Regions from separate parts of the Homo sapiens genome. Here region 1 is linked to region 2. The links come from fine-mapping of genetic effects on gene expression. A gene starts in region 2. The other region holds a variant in brackets. All regions are shown on one strand. Distances are from middle to middle.

What was found. PIP is the estimated chance that this variant, and not a neighbour inherited with it, causes the effect.
Region 1: its variant is the best candidate, but not a certain one, in a credible set for the expression of SIK3 in aorta (GTEx, PIP 0.65).

The regions. Positions count from the first base shown.
Region 1 is chr11:117,050,652-117,056,031 of GRCh38, reverse strand. All of the region lies in intron 1 of SIK3 (SIK family kinase 3), which reads left to right. Among named protein-coding and RNA genes, the nearest start is that of SIK3, 45 kb to the left of the region's middle. The variant G/C (reference allele first, on the strand shown) is at 2,382.
Region 2 is chr11:117,095,767-117,101,146 of GRCh38, reverse strand. It overlaps SIK3 (SIK family kinase 3), which reads left to right and starts at 2,719. Exons shown (of 25, transcript NM_001366686.3): 1 at 2,719-3,004. The coding sequence starts at 2,732. RefSeq lists silencers at 2,531-2,710, 2,791-2,840 and an enhancer at 4,162-4,211.

The DNA.
Region 1 (5,380 bases), 45 kb after region 2:
TGTCAGTTCTTTTGTGCTGCTATAGGAGAATACCTGACACTGGGTAATTTATAAATAACAGAATTTTATTTTCTCATAGTTCTGGAGGCTGGGAGGGCACTGGCAGGTTCATTGATGGGGATTTGGTCTCTGCTTCTTAGACGATGCCTTGAATGCTGTGTCCTCACATGGCAGAAGGCAGAAGGGCAAAAAGGGAGTAACTCCCTCCATCAAGCCCATTTTTAAGGGCACCTAATTGCATTCATGAACGGAGGAACCCTCATGACTTAATGATGTCTTAAAGGCCCGACTTCTTAATACCATCACGTTGGCAACATCTGACTTTTAGAGGCGGAGACATTCAAACTGTGGCCCTAGCCAAGTCCTTTGTGTGCTTTTACTTATCTTTACAACCATCCTATGAGATAGTGCCTGTTTCTCTGCCTACTTGTTAAGCGATTATATTCTTCTGGATTTTGTCCTTGGCTCCTCTATCCAACCCACCTGTAGCCCCACCTTCTCTTCTGTTCCCTCATCCAAACCAGAGAGACCAGGATTTGAATCTGGCTCCATTATTTTCTCCCTAAGAGACACGGAATGATTTACTTTGTCTCTATGTTTCTGTTTCTTTCTCTGTAAGTAAGAGTGGGGAGACTAGAGCTACCTATCTCAGGATTGTGTGGAGTAAATGAATAATGTGTGTAAAACATTTAAAATAGTGTCTCATGTACACTAAGTGCTTAATAAATGCTAATAATAGGAATAGTAACAACAGTATAGTTACATTGTTATTATAAATCTGTATCTGTGGTACTCTTAGCTTAAGTTCGTACAAAAATATTGAGCTGCCTGTTAGAAATCTACATTTGGATGCCTCCCCAGATATCTTAAACTCAGTTTATCTAAAGTCAGAGTCTTTCTGTGGCTTCAGTGCTTAGTGACTGTGTCCGTGAATAAACTACTTATTTTCTTTAAGCCTCCATTTCTCCATTTATGAAAGGGTGATAATGAACTTATTTTATCAATATTAAATGAGATAATTCTTGTAAAAGTATTTAGCATAGTGCTGGTATATACTAATATCTTAATAAATATTAGTTGCTATTATTATTATTCCTTTTAAATGCTGATCCCCTTTTTGTCCTGTTCTGCCCAGAAAAAGAGCCTCAGGATAGCTTTGCCTGTCTGCCTGTCTTCCTTATCCTTCATATGCAACCAGTCAGCAAGTACTGTTATTTTGTATTTTCATTTTAAACATCTTAATTTTTATTTATTTTAAAATTATTTATAGAGATGGGGTCTCACTATGTTGTCTAAGCTGGTCTTGAATTCTTGGGCTCCAGTGATCCTCCCACCTCTGCCAAAGTGCTGGGATTACAGGTGTGAACCACCACACCTGGCCTATCAAGTACTGTTGATTGTGCTTCCGAAACATGTGCTTGCATCCAACCACTCCTTATCATTTCTTGACACAATTATTGTGGTAATCTCCTAATTGCTCTCCTGGCCTCTTGGCCATCTTGTACCTTTCATCCTGAGTTATCTTTATAGTAGGTAGATCTGCTCATATCACTCAGCAGAAAGGCCTCTGATGGGTCTCTCTTACCTGAAATATAAAGCCTCCAAGGCCCACTACACCACAGTCATCTTTAGAGCCTCCCCTCTTGTTCTGGGACCCATGGGTCCTACAGTATATGCAGACTACTGACTGTTCTGTGACTGCACCCTGTACTCTAAATCTCATACCTTTGTCCCTGACCTGCTGTTGCTGTACCTGCCTTCTTTTTGCTTAGAGGGTTGTCCCCTCAAGCACTCCCTGCTAATAAGCACTCAGCCTTCCACCCCAAACATCTAGTCTGTCTGGTGAATTCCTGGTGATTCTTCAGTGGTCTGTCTCAAATATATCTTCTACGCTCTTTTCTCTTTAGTCTTAACTGCCATCCAAGGCAACATTAGTTAGTCCCTCATTATAAGAGGCAATATAAGCTGGTGAGAGGTATATACCCACAGTCCTAGCTACTTGGGAGTCTGAAGCAGGAGGATTGCTTGAGGCCAGCCTGGGCAGCATAGCAAGACCTTGTCTCTTTGAAAAAAATAGAAAGAAAATGCTGGGTGTGGTGGCTCACATCTGTAATCCCAGCACTTTGGAAGGCCAAGTAGGGAGGATTGCTTGAGCTCAGGAGTTCGAGACCAGCCTGGGCAATACAGCAAGACCCCATCTCTACAAAAACTAAAAAAATTAGCTGGGCATGGTGGCACATGCCTGTGGTTTCAGCTACTCTGGATGCTGAGGGAGAAGGATCACTTGAGCCCAGGAGTTTGAGGCTGCAGTGAGCCATGATTGTGCTCCAGCCTGGGTGACAGAGTAAGACCTTGTCTCAGTGGAGGGGGTAGGGTGGGAG[G/C]GGGGAAAGAGGCAATATAGTGGTAAGTTAAAATCCCTGAGTTTGGAGCCAGACTGCCTTTGTTATTAAGGTAGTTGTATATAACTGGGATGAAACTGTTTAACTTTTTTGTGTCTCAGTTTTCTCATTTATAACAAATGAGTAATATTAGTCTTGCTGTGAGGGTTAAGTGAATTAATGTAGGGAAAATGCATTGAAAGGGCTTGCATATTACTAAGTACTTCATAAATATAGCTATTATTATTATTCTCAAAGCATTTCTTACATACTTACCTATAATAGCATTTGCCACTTTACTTTTTTTTTTTTTTTCCAAGACAGAGTCTTGCTCTGTTGCCCAGGCTGGAGTGTAGTGGCATGATCTAGGCTCACTGTGACCTCCGCCTCCTGGGTTCAAGCAATTCTCCTGCTTCAGCCTCCTGAGTAGCTGGGATTATAGGTGTATGCCACTATGCCCAGCTAATTTTTGTATTTTTAGTAGAGACAGGGTTTTACCGTGTTGGCCAGGCTGGTCTTGAACTCCTGACCTTGTGATCCACCCACCTCGGCCTCCCAAAGTGCTGGGGTTACAGGCATGAGCCACCGCGCCCGGCCTGCAGTTACTTTTTTGTGTATATTTCCCAATAGACTGTGGCTTTTTTGAAGGTGGGCTATTTTAATCATCTTTGTGTCATCAGTATGTAGTACACAGTGGGACCCAGTAAACAATCAGATGTGCTGTTTGTGTAGCCCAGAATAAAGTGCCAGGTCCTCCTGCATTGCAGCAGTCAGCAGCATGCATCTGGAAAGTATTGCTTTCTGAAACTACGGCATTAGAGCCACAAAGCTGTTTGGGATTGGACCTTAGCAAGCTCTTCAACCAGAAATTTGCTATTACAATGAAGCTTCCTATCTGCAATAGGTAGATTGTAACTGACAGCATGTAGTCATTGGAAGGAGGTTAATCCCAGAGCATAAGAGGACTTCTGATTTATTTTTGCTTAAAGGGATACAATCCAAGGCCACAAAGGCTGCTATAAGACTTTTGTTTTGTTGGGGATAATAAAGAGAGCTGTTTCTGCCTTTTCCACTTTCTTCTTATAAACCTGCTGAAGATTGAAATGTTAAAATGTGATTCAGAGAAGAGATTTCTTTATTGTAAACATGATAGAGAGCTCAGAATGAATGCCGGAGATAGACTCTTTATAGAGGATTTCAGGGTATTAAACTCTTAAGCCCCTTATGGTCAGGTTTTACTGCCAACCCTTAACACCCCACCATGCCTGGGCTACTGCAATAGTAACTGGTCTTTCTACCTTTAGGTTCGCTGCAGTCTCTCCTGCCTACTGCTATGATATTAATATTTATAAAGCCTTACTTTGACTTTTCTCATGCATTATAAAAAATCCTCGCAAAATACCCCATCATATACAAGGAAAGTTCCAAGTTTTAGCTTGTCATTCTGGACTTGTATTAGGATTCTCCAGAGAGAGAGAGAGAGATTTCTTTCCTTTCTTTTTTTCTCTTTTTTTTTCCCAGGGTTTCACTCTTGTTGCCCAGTCGAGTCCAGTGGCACTATCTTGCAAACTGCAACTTCCGCCTTCCGGTTTCAAGCAATTCTCCTGCCTCAGCCTCCTGAGTAGCTGGGATTACAGGCGCCTGCCACCACGACCGGCTAATTTTTGCATTTTTATTAGAGACGGGATTTCACCATGTTGGCCAGGCTGATCTCAAACTCCTGACCTCGTGATCCACCTGCCTCAGCCTTCCAAAGTGCTGGGATTACAGGCATGAGCCACCACGCCCGGCCTGGATAGATGGATTTCTGTAATAAACCTCTATAGGCCAGGCGTTGTAGCTCATGCCTGTAATCCCAGCGTTTTGGGAGGCTGAGGCGGGCAGATCACCTGAGGTCAGGAGTTTGAGACCAGGTCGGCCAACATGTTGAAACCCCATCTCTATTAAAAATACAAAAATTAGCCGGGCATGGTGGTGTGCACTTGTAAATCCCAGCTATTTGGAAGGCTGAGGCAGACAATCACTTGAACCCAGGAGGTGGAGGTTGCAGTGAGCTGAGATTGCGCCATTGCACTCCAGCCTGGGTGACTGAGGGAGACTCGGTCTCAAAAAACAAAAAACAAGGAAAAAAACCCCAAAACCTTCATAATAAGTTTCCATATCTATATCTATAGATATAGAAGAGGTTTATTTTATATATATAATAGATACATAGATAGGTATAAGAGGAGGTTTATTATGGAAGTTGGCTCATGTGATTCATGTGATCATGGAGGCCGAGAAATCCTATGATAGGCCATGTGCAACCTGGAGAACCAGGAAAGCTGGTGGTGTAATTAAGTTGGAGTCTGAGGTCCTGAGAACCAGGGGAATCAAGGCTGAAGGCCTGGGAATTGGGAAGGGGTGGTGTGCTGGTGTAAGTCCTGGAGTCCAAAGACCCAAGAACCAGGAGCTTTGATGTCCAAGAGTGGGAGAAGATGGATATCCCAGCTCAAGAAGAAAGAGTGAATTTGCTCTTCCTCTGCCGTTTGCTCTCTCTGGGTGGAAAAGGGTAAACAGATTATGACGCCCACCCTCATTGGTGAGTGTGGGTCTTCTTTATTTAGTTTACTGATTCAAATGCTAATCTCTTGCAGAAATACCCTCAGAGACCCACCTAGAAATGTTTTATCAGCTGTCTGGGCCATTCCTTAGCTTAGTCAACTTGGCACATAAAATTAACCATCACAGGACTCTTCTGCAGTCTGACTCTGGTTACCTTTTCTACCTTATCTTCCACTATATCCTAGAATGAGCTGTGTAGCTTACCTGGCCTAGTTGTGAGTCCTATAATGTGAATTGCATTTTATGTTTGTATCTACCCAGAACATTTTACCTTTTGAAATTTTGCCTCTCCTTTAAGATCCATTAAAAAAAAACTATTTATTTATTTATCTGTTTATTTATTTATTTAATTTATTTTTTTTGAGATGAAGTCTCACTCTTGTTGCCCAGGCTGGAGT
Region 2 (5,380 bases):
TTTCTAGCTCTGTGATTTTGGCCAATTCCCCTAATCCCTATGTGCCTCATTTTCCTTATCTGCAAAATAGAGATATAATACAAACCATCTAATTAGGTTGTTGTGAAGATTAAGTGAGTTCCCTTAGGTACACTGTTTAGCATAACGCGTGGCAGATTGCTATTTCCTCTGAGTTTCTCTCAGAACCTAACTCAGTTCTTGGTACTCAATAAATCCTTATTAAACGTAAACATCTAAACTATTTTCCTTTTTGCCTGATGATCTCCTTTGATTACTCCCTTCTCTAATTTTCTATATTCTTTGTGCCAAAGAGGACTATTCTTCAAGGAGATCTCCAGCAAGTCTCTACCAAAGTCTCAATCAGAAACACCATCTAGTGACCTCAATCTATACAGGAAAGGAGCGTAAGTGACATAACACACAGCACACAGCATATGTTCTGGTCATTATTGAGGGACAAGAGTCATCTGCTTCTTCTCTGTGGAAATTAGAACAATGCTGCATTTTCTAGGTCCTTCCCAGAGTTGTTTTTGTTTTTGACACTCTTGAGAGAGTAGCAAAAGTTCTGATATTTGATGTTCGAATTACCTCCATTAGTGGAGGACACTCTGTGATCATACAGTCATCAGTAAGAATGGTTTCAGTGCTGCTCCTGCAGCTTCCACAGTGAAAGATTTTTTTATTTGCTTTACTAGCCAGCTAAGGTTTCTGTTGAGACACCCAGGGAGATGGTAAAACTGCAGCTGTAGCTGGGCACGGTGGCTCACGCCTGTAATCCCAGCACTTTGGGAGGCTGAGGCGGGGGGATCACGAGGTCAGGAGTTCGAGACCAGTCTGGCCAACATATCGAAACCCCGTCTCTACTAAAAATACAAAATTAGCCGGGCATGGTGGTGTGCGCCTGTAGTCTCAGCTACTCGGGAGGCTGAGGCAGGAGAATGGCTTGAACCTGGGAGGTGGAGGTTGTGGTGAGCTGAGATTGCACCACTGCACTCCAGCCTGGGTGACAGAGTGAGACTCTGTCTAAAAAAAAAAACAAAAACCCAAAAACTGCAGCTGTGAAGCCCAGCACCAAAGTTATAGTCCCTGCTAGAGGCAGCTGAGAGCCATGAAGTGATAGGAGAGGCAGGTCACACCCCATCATTTATCTGGGATGGAATGAGCTCAGCTGATGAAAGGGCTTAACCAATGCAAGAAGCCAAGGCCCACTTCATTCTTATCTTTAGTTGCTAATAAGGGAGCCAATTAGTGTTAATTGTGTTGGCAGTTTGGAACAGCTACCAGGGAATAGATCCAAGACCATTGTGGGATGACCCCTCTGTCCCATCTTAAGTCCCAGCCATTACTCATGGTTGGATAGGGAATTGGAGCACCAGGAGGTGTTCTTTGGTCAGCGAGTAAACACGAGTTATCCTTCCACACATTTACAGTGCCCTGGGTGTCAGTTTTTAATACTGTGCATGCAGTGACCTCACAATACAGTTCTACCATTGAGAGAGACATAGATATGGATGGATCAGGACTAGTCCAAAGGAATACATTTTAACATTGGAATATTCACAATCTTCCCTCCTTTCCACCCAGCCTGCCAAAGACTATTTTGTTGACAGTCTGATTTCCTACCTGCAACCCTCACCTAAAGCAGCTAAGTTAATCTATTTAATAAAGGGAAGGGGAGAGAGGAGGAGGAAGCCTGGGAGCTATGAAGGATGCAGGTAATAGGCAAGGGAAGAAAAAGAGATATGAAATTGCTGGAGTTATTAACTTGATGACCCTCAATGTCCTCGGAGAGTCACTAGGAAGGATGGAATTTTTATTATTTACTTATTTATTTTGCTTAACCGACTGTTGTTTAAACACGACGTGGTTCATTGGACAATGCGCACCACTGCTTCATCAGGGTTATACAAGCAACAGAAATAGTATGTAGGCACTCTGACAGACATCCCTGTAGAATTGTTCAGAGATGGGGGTGGTAGGAAGGAAAATGACGTACCTTCTTTGGCTGTCACCCACCCAATGACTGGAATGCCTGTTTGGACTGGCTTGTCCGCCCTTGAACACGCAAATCCTAGTTTCCCCATTCTCCTATATTCGGTGACAATTAGGTTGACTGTGCAGGGTGAGCTGGATTTTGTAAGAGGAAGGAATTTTACCGAAGAATTCCCCTGCGTTGTTACCAACTTGGTTACAGTTGCTTCAAGAGTGTAGCTATTCCTGCATTTGTGGCCTCAAGGGCTAAAGTGGGACAACGCTGGTATTTTTGGTGATGAGGAAACACTTTTTTTTTGTTAAGGGAGGTTGGGTGATCGTTGAACTGGGACAGAGGTCACAGCAGAGGTCACATTGGCGATTCGAGCGGCGGTGGGGGGTTGGCTTTGGGTCGGGCATCCTGCGCCCCCCACTCGGGAAAGGTGGCGGAGACTTCGAGGTTGGGGGCCCATCGAAGGTTCCCACCGCCAGCTCCCGGAGGGGGGCACCCGGGAGCCAGCGCCTCAGGAACCGGGGCCCACGCGGGAAGGTCGAGCCCGCCGGTGAGGTCACGGTTGCCATGGCTCCGGGCAGTGACGCGCGTCGGCACGTGACCCGCGGTTGCCATGGAGCCGGGCGCCGGTCGGCGAAAGCGCCCCGCCTCCCCGAGTGACGTCCGCGGCCCCCCCTTTCCCGCCCCCCCTTGCCCCCTCCCCCGAGCCGGCTCCCCGCGGCCCCGGAGGTTTCACTGCACAACAAGATGGCGGCGGCGGCGGCGAGCGGAGCTGGCGGGGCTGCCGGGGCCGGGACTGGGGGAGCCGGGCCCGCGGGCCGCCTGCTGCCTCCGCCCGCGCCGGGGTCCCCAGCCGCCCCCGCTGCCGTGTCCCCTGCGGCCGGCCAGCCGCGTCCCCCAGCCCCGGCCTCCCGCGGACCCATGCCCGCCCGTATCGGCTACTACGAGATCGACCGCACCATCGGCAAGGGCAACTTCGCGGTGGTCAAGCGGGCCACGCACCTCGTCACCAAGGCCAAGGTACCGGCGCAGGGGCCAGGCGGCAGTCGGAGCGTGGCGGGGCCGGGAGAGGTCCGCGCCCCCCAGCCGGGGGGTCGGGGCGGCGAGCGCGGCGCGTGGTGGGAGCGTTGGGGGCCGGGAGGCGGGAGGGAGCCAGCCGCGGCGGGGCGGGCGCGGAGCTAGGGACACCTGGGACTCGAGACGGCGGAACTCCAAGCAGGGGGCCGAGGGCACAGAGCACCGGCGCCCAGGAGCCGGGCGCGGGGAGGGGTCCTCGGGGCTGAGGGCAGGCGGGTAAAGGGGATGATTGGAAAGAAGGGGTCGGAACTCCCCGAGGGCCGGGAGACTGTAAGCCCAGAAGACTCTGGAACCAGCAGCTAGGGAATCATAAGGGAATGAGGGCAGGGGCATATGAAATGTGGACCCGGAGGATGGGGAAAAACAAGGGTGAAGTGGCAGACCCGGGCTTGTAAGGGGACCCAGGACGGCTGGGGCACGGACTGGGAATGTGCACGTCTGCAGGGCGCTGGGAGGTCCCAGGATCCTGGTGCCTTAAGACAGAGACAGGAATCCGCATTTGATCATCTAAGACTGATAGATGGTGCGAAGGGGATCCCGAGGAGACACGATTAGTGGAGGAGGCAATGAGGAAAATGGGGAAATAAGGGGGAAATTGCTTTGCTTGTCCACAGGAAGGGGCCCAGGGAATGGGGGAGTGAGGTGGGGGTGGGGGCTGTCCCAGGTTTATGATGGCACTAGGTAGTCAGGGGTTAAACAATTTGGGAGAGCTGATTGCTGGTTATTTTTAGTTGTTGGAGGGTCGGGAATTGTGGGCTTTGTAGAACCCAGGGTGGGCTTTTACTGGTTGGGGGGAAGCTTGTGATTGAAGAACCCAGACACCGGGAGATTACACTCATCGAGCCCTTAGTTCTCAAAGGGATTTGAGGCGCTATAGGAGTGAAATTGGCCAAGGTCAATTAGGAAGCTATATATGTATGCATGTAAAATTCTTTGAGGAAATATGGTAGCACTTTCATGTAGCCTTCGTTGGGAGGACTGGAATCTAAGACATCAGGAGGAATCTTTTGGTTTTGGTGGAACCCGCAAAGCCCATTTTTACTCTAAAATTTTCTTTGCTCAATATCTTACTTGAATGAATACTTTTAATGTAGTCATTCATTATGTTTAGAACTGCAGCTTGTGTTTTCCCTCAGCCTGAGGAATGAAGAACCCTTACAGCTGCTGCCGCCTCCTACCAAAGCCACATCAATTCCCCTCACCTCCTCAGCCTAGCCTCTGGTTGTCATGACCTACCTTGTTTTTGCTTTTTTGGCAGTGGCTTGTTTTCTGAAGCCAGTGACTTATCTAGGCCTTCTCTCCTGATCACTTGCAACCTGAAGTTCCTTCCCCACCATCTTTCTGCCTGAGGCTACAAGGGGCCCTTCTTACCAGGGTGTCAGGGTGGGTGGCTGTGGCGAATTGATTGGTCAGTTTCACTTCCTCTGGAGGGCCCTCTTCAGCCTTTTTGTCCGTTTTTATCACAGGGCCTCCAGTCTGCAGGTCAGAGCTGAATGAGATACCAAAGTCCAGGGCTCCCTCAGACCCTGAGGGGAAGTCAGGGGAAGTCGATTGAGCCAAGACTTTGGTGTGCTCCTCACTTGCCACCCCAGCCCCTCACCGTGTTTCCAGTCTAGTTGACTATTAGCCAAGGCAAACTTACATTTACAAACAATATGCCTTGTTCCTTGTTTTGCTATTTCTTTCCTTTTTTTCTGCCTATTTTCTGTGTAATCACTTTGTGCTCCTGTGGTTATTTTGCTCTGACCTCTGGGGGATAGTCTCCATGAACTTAATTGGTTGCCTGGTTTATGGTTTCATGATTTAAAGAATTTTGAATCTTCCAGCCCTTGGATACACCAAAATATTGATAAAATCTGTTACAGACAGGGTTGAATGTTTTCGTAAATGTAATTGCAAACAGTTGATTCTTGGCTTTAATATAAAAGAGACATTTCTATCTTCAGTAGTCAGCAAAGCCAGTGCCTAATTATGGCTGGTCTGCCCGCTTTCTAATTTTCATGTGTGTGTATATGTGCGTGCGTGTGTTTTTCATAGTTTTTCTCTGAGACCTTGGTATCCTTTAGGACTGCAGCATTTTAAACACTGGCTTGTTTACAAACGGGTGTCACTGTTTATGTTGGTTTTTATCTTTGATCATTTGTGGTATGCAGTTGTGCAATTCCTATGTATGGAAATATTCAAAGTCTTGAATGAGACTGAAATGGCTTGGACAATGAGTTGCATGTGTGAAGGAGCCACACCAGCATTCATTTGTGTTTCTGTAGCAGTGTGCAATTTCCTAGTTACAGTTACAAGTGCTATATCTTTTGCTGCTTA